Regions from separate parts of the Homo sapiens genome. Here region 2 is linked to region 1. Evidence: fine-mapped expression QTL. Tissue or cell type: whole blood. Region 1 holds a variant in brackets; the other region holds the start of a gene. All regions are shown on one strand. Distances are from middle to middle.

Region 1 (2,684 bases):
ATTGACATTATTTCATGGATGTAATAGAAATAATTTAACCTTTCTACTGTTGCTGGCTGTTACTAGTTTTTGTTTTTTATTACAAACAATGCTGCAGTAGAACCCCCTTGTACTTTCCCTGTAAATTGTGAGAGTTCCTCTAGGTTATCAAGAAATGGTTTTGCTACTCTTAGGATTTGGGGATTTTAAATTTTGCCAAAAACTTGTTTTTGCTAAAAAAAAACTAAGTTGTAGATTTGAATGGATAGTATAATATTGTTTACATTGGGAGAAAAGCCCAGATATGTCATCGGTATATAGTCTGTTAACCAGACTGATAATAGTTGAAAACTTTGGAGAGAGTACTTAGACTTGAGAATGATGGTCAAAGGGATTTTGGCTTTTTTAGTTGTGTTTAGGTTTTTAAAACAAGAATATTTTTCTATATTACGTGTTATAAATAGTTAAAACTATAGAGATGCCTGAGTAATTTCCATCTTTTTGTTACAGGCAAAGAATGTTCCCTGTTTTCAGTTGCATACTGATGATTTTAAAAATTTGATAATTCATTGGGGTATAGAAAAAAATATATTTCAAAATGTAGAATTAGGTGAGGGTCACATTCTTTGGCCACTTTTATCCCGATCAAGAATATTTGATCACTTGTGTTTTCTAGATATTATAGTAAGAACCTTTCTAGCTTTCTTTTTAATGTGTGGGTTTCTAGTACCAGTGACAACAATTTTACTATTAGTCTTAATATCCTTTAATATAAAATAGGACATTTAAATATTGCTAGTATTACATGAATATAGTAAACAATTGCTTAAATTATGTTACTCCAAAGAATAGATGTTTTTTGATACATAACTTTTTTTTTTTTTTTAAAGAGATGTGAAAGCTGGAAACATTCTTCTTGGAGAAGATGGCTCAGTACAGATTGCAGGTAATGATTAGTATTTCTTTTTATTTGATTTAATGGTCAGTAGAACCACATTACTTATCTTTTATGTTTCCTTAATCAGCATTCTCTCCTGTTCCCTGGACCATCTCTATTCAAGCATCCTCTGTTGGCATGTCATAGGATGCCACCGACTCTCAAGATATCTTCTCATACTCATCCTTCATTTCTGCTCTTAGACATTTTTTTCTGACCATTACTTGTTTCCTTCCAGCTATCCACTCCTTACTTCCATTAGGGTCTTCTGCTATGGGTTCTCATAGCATTCTGTACTTTCCTTTAAAGGAAAAGTAGTTGAGGATCTTCATTGTGTTTAAGAATAAGTACGTTATATAGAGGCTATACAGAGCTTCTTCTGTCCTGGGGGAAATGGAGTATTTGTCAATTAGGAAAAAGTGCCTGAGAAGTAGAAGTGCACTTTTGGCAGTTTCAGAGCTGAAGGGATAAGAGTTGCAGTCCAGGGCCTACCAAAAGTGGCTATCCTGATGAAACACCCCCTCCTCCAGGCTGAGACTCCAGAA[T/C]GACTGTACCCAGGGATTGTCTAGCAAGCAGATCATCTGAGAAAACCTCAGCTTGGTCCCAGACTGCTAGAACAGTCAGGTGTTTGGCAGGAGGAAGATAATCACCCAAATCTTAAATTATTTCTTCATCTTTAAGAAGATAATTTAGGCGAACATCTTCATGTCCGTGAGGTAAGGAAATATTTTAACCAAGTCACATAAAGCTCTAATATAAAGGGAAAGATTGATAAATTTGACTCCTTTAAAATGAGCAACTTCTACTCATCAAAAGAGGAACAAATGGTTTATTACTATTAACAGAGTAAAAGGGTAAACCACAGAGTAGAGAAGATATTTGCAGCATGAATAATTGTTAAAGGGCTCAAGTGTAAAGCGTATAAAAAACTCACTGAGAGAAAAAAAAACTCTAAAAAAGTGGGCAGAAAACTGGCATAGGCACTTCCCAAATGAAGACATCCAAATATAAATGTAGTAAAAGATGTTCAAGCTTACACTAGTAATTTGTTAAATGCAAAGTAAAATCACATTGTGATAACACGTTAAATTGATTGGCCTGGCAAAAACATCTTGACAGTACTAATTGTTGGTGTGGGTATAAAGCAAGGAAAAAAATCTCATTTCTGATGATGGGAATATAAATTGGTACAACCATTTCATTACAGTTGAAGATATGCATACTGTTAGACTTTTGCTCCTAGGTGTATAGCCCAGAGAAACTCGTCCGTATCTGTGCCACAGTGTTCATAGTCATTACAAGTTTGAAATAATCCCAATGCCAGTAGAATGGATAAATAAATTGTGGTTAATTATATACTGGAATACCGGGTTTTTGTTTGTTTGTTTGTTTGTTTGTTTTTTTTGAGACAGTCTCGCTCTGTTGCCCAGGCTGGAGTGCAGTGGTGCACTCTTGGCTCACTGCAACCTGTGCCTTCCAGGTTCAAAAGATTCTTGTGCCTCAGCCTCCCAAGTAGTTGGGATTACAGGCGTGCACCCCTCCACCGACTAATTTTTGTATTTGTAGTAGAGACAGTGTTTCTCCATGTTGGCCAGGCTGGTCCTGAACTGTACCCACTAAAAAATAATTCCTCATTCCACCTCTCACCCCAGCCATGGGTGACCACCATTCTCCTTTCTGTCTCCATGAATTTGACTACTTTAAGTACCTAAGTGAACTCATACAATATTTGTCCTTTTGTGATTGACTTTATTTCATTTTGTATAAT
Region 2 (2,684 bases), 51 kb before region 1:
CAGCTGGGCCTAGGTGAAGGTCTCTTCCTTTTTCTGAGACGGTGTCTCCGTCTGTTGCCCAGACTGGAGTGCAGTGGCATGCTCTCGGGTCACTGCAACCTTCGCCTCCTGCTTCAGCCTCCCTAGTAGCTGGGATTACAGGCGCCAGCCACCACGCCCAGCGATTTTTCTGTATTTTAGTAGAGAGGGAGTTTCACCATGTTGGTCAGGATGGTCTCGAACTCCTGACCTCAGGTGGTCCGCCCGCCTCCGCCTCCCAAAGTGTTGGGATTACAGGCGTGAGCCACCGCACCCGGCCTAAGGTCTCTTCCTTAAAGACTGCCGTTGGACTGAAAGGTGTCCAACCTAGAACAGTTTCGCACCTAGCCCTATCCCTGTTGGATGCTCATTATTTTTTAAAATCCAATTTACCAAGCGTGTTCAGTCTTCAGCTCGCTAATTTCTCTAACGGCCGTACGTAGTCAAACTGAGAAAACTGTTCAGTGGGGGCGACAAAAGCCAACGCCCGTGAGACAACCCCCAAATCCGTGGGTCGATCTCACTTGTTTAATACCCCAAGCCCTGTCCGGGGGGAAGAAAGACAACCTCCCGAGTCCCTCAAGGCAGGTGCTTATTTGAGCTTCAGATCTAAAGCTGCGAATGGACAGAACCCGCCCAGTGCAGGGTGGACCCGCGAGAGACAGCGCCGCGACAAGCGTTAGAGAGAACGTCCGCCTTGAAAAAAATGTCACCAGGCAAACTTCCAGTTTCACTCCGACCAGTGGCCCAAGGCCTTTTATCCTAGTTGGCAGTGGTCCACACCCAAAGGCTACCCCACCCAGCCGCTCCCTCAGGGTTTCTCCACACCCTGTAGAGCCTTTCGCACGTCTCGAGGGTGTGACGGTTACGCCGTGACGTCACTCCAGAGGAAGTGGTAAGACGAGCGCGGTAACGGAGCTCTTGAAGGGCTGCAGCCCTAACACGGAGAAGCGCGCTAAGAGCCTGGAGGCGGGACCAATTTATGACTGACGTCTACCCACACCCATTGCTTTTCTGATTCCTTCTCAAACAAACCAATGAATGCGACGACGGAGACAGCAGCGTGCCCCAGGCGCTAGAAGTGGCTCTGCCCCTTCTACTTTGCTGCCCTTTGGTCGCCATGCTTAGTGTGGCTACTGCCTCTGTGCTACTTGAGGCTCTCCTACGGCTTTTCGATGCCTTCGATGAACCTCTACCTAAGCACTTCTTCCCTTTCACCGCGAACTCCTACCTTCTCGGGTTTCTAGCTTGCTCACTTTACATCCAGCCACACTGGAGATGGCGGCCGGAGGCGGGCCCGAGGTGGGGCGTGACCAGCGCAGTGACGTCAGCGCGCTGCGTGTCGGCAGGTGGAGGAAGAGGGGAAAGTTTGGCCCGTGCGTGGGGCTGGGGTGGAGGGCGGGACAGAGGGGCTGGGCCCAGGCAAAGCTTCTGTCGCTGCTGCTGCGGAGGCCGAGGACAGGACGTGGGCTGGGCCGGGCAGTGCCGGACTCGGAGGAGCAGGAGGCGAGGTCCGCCGGAGCTCTGAGCCCCCGCTGCTCTGCCGCGCGGTGACCCCGCGCCCCGGCGCCGTCCGACCCGTGGCTGTTCCGAGACGATTGGTGGGGGCGCGGCGGCGGCGGCGGCGGCTGTTGGGGGTGGGGAGACGCGCGGCGAGGAGACGAGCGAGGTCAGCGAGTTTGAGGGAGGACCGCGAGCCGCTGCCGCCGTCATGTCCGAGGACTCGAGCGCCCTGCCCTGGTCCATCAACAGGGACGATTACGAGCTGCAGGAGGTGATCGGTGAGAGCAGGCGCTGCGGAGGGGGGAGGCGCGGCGCTGGGAGGCGGGGGACACGGGAACGTGGGGAGCCGCGGGAGCTCGGGGAGCGCAGCCCTCATAGGAATTCGTGGGGCGCTTGTGGGGCTGGGGGCTTGTAGGACGCTTGTGTCGAGGAGCGCGTGTGAGACGGGAAGGGGGTTTTGAGGCGCGCGCCTGTGAGGTGGCGTGGGGTGGGGTGAGGCTTGAGGGGGCTCAGGAGAGATTTGTGTACAGGATTCTCAAATGTGTGGACAGGAGCGGCCCATGTGTCTTGTAGAGAAAGAAAGTGCAGGTGTGGGACAGGCCTTTCCGAGGCTGTGTGAGAAATGGGATCTTGAAGTGGGCACAGCCATCGATTTCTGGGATTGTGGGATAGATAGGGAGCTTTAAGTTTTTCCTCCATCCGTGCTGGGGCGAACTGGGGATCCTCCAGGTGAAGCTGCAGGAACCGCGCTGAGCAACCGAGACCCAACTTACGACTCCTTCCAACTGACTTTCCAGTCGGGGAGGTAGACATTAAATAAGAAGACAAAAAGAAGTAAGAAGGGCTGGGCGTGGTGGCTCACGCCTGTAATCCCACCACTTTGGGAGGCCGAGGCGGGCGGATCACGAGGTCGGGGGTTCGAGACCAGCCTGGCCAATATGGTGAAACCCCGTCTCTACTAAAAATACAAAAATTAGTTGGGTGTGGTGGTGCGCGCCTGTAATCCCAGCTACTCGGGAGGCTGAGGCAGAAGAATCCTTGAACCCGGGAGGCGGAGCTTGCAGTGAGCTGAGATCGCGCCACTGCACTCCAGCCTGGGCGACAAACCCTGACTCTGACTCAAAAAAAAAAAAAAAAAAAAAAAAATTTGAAGAGGCTTTGGC

The links. PIP is the estimated chance that this variant, and not a neighbour inherited with it, causes the effect.
Region 2: OXSR1 starts here. The variant in region 1 is fine-mapped to the expression of OXSR1 in whole blood (TOPMed, PIP above 0.99).

Annotation. Positions count from the first base shown.
Region 1 is chr3:38,215,227-38,217,910 of GRCh38, forward strand. It overlaps OXSR1 (oxidative stress responsive kinase 1), which reads left to right. Exons shown (of 18, transcript NM_005109.3): 5 at 870-925. Among named protein-coding and RNA genes, the nearest start is that of SLC22A13, 49 kb to the right of the region's middle. The variant T/C (reference allele first, on the strand shown) is at 1,462.
Region 2 is chr3:38,164,148-38,166,831 of GRCh38, forward strand. OXSR1 (oxidative stress responsive kinase 1) reads left to right here and starts at 1,390. Exons shown (of 18, transcript NM_005109.3): 1 at 1,390-1,799. The coding sequence starts at 1,730. It overlaps LOC101928234 (a long non-coding RNA gene), which reads right to left and starts at 1,329. Exons shown (of 5, transcript XR_940733.2): 1 at 1,250-1,329. RefSeq lists enhancers at 65-1,264, 425-504, 655-784, 1,055-1,154, 1,548-2,163 and silencers at 1,395-1,784, 1,835-1,884.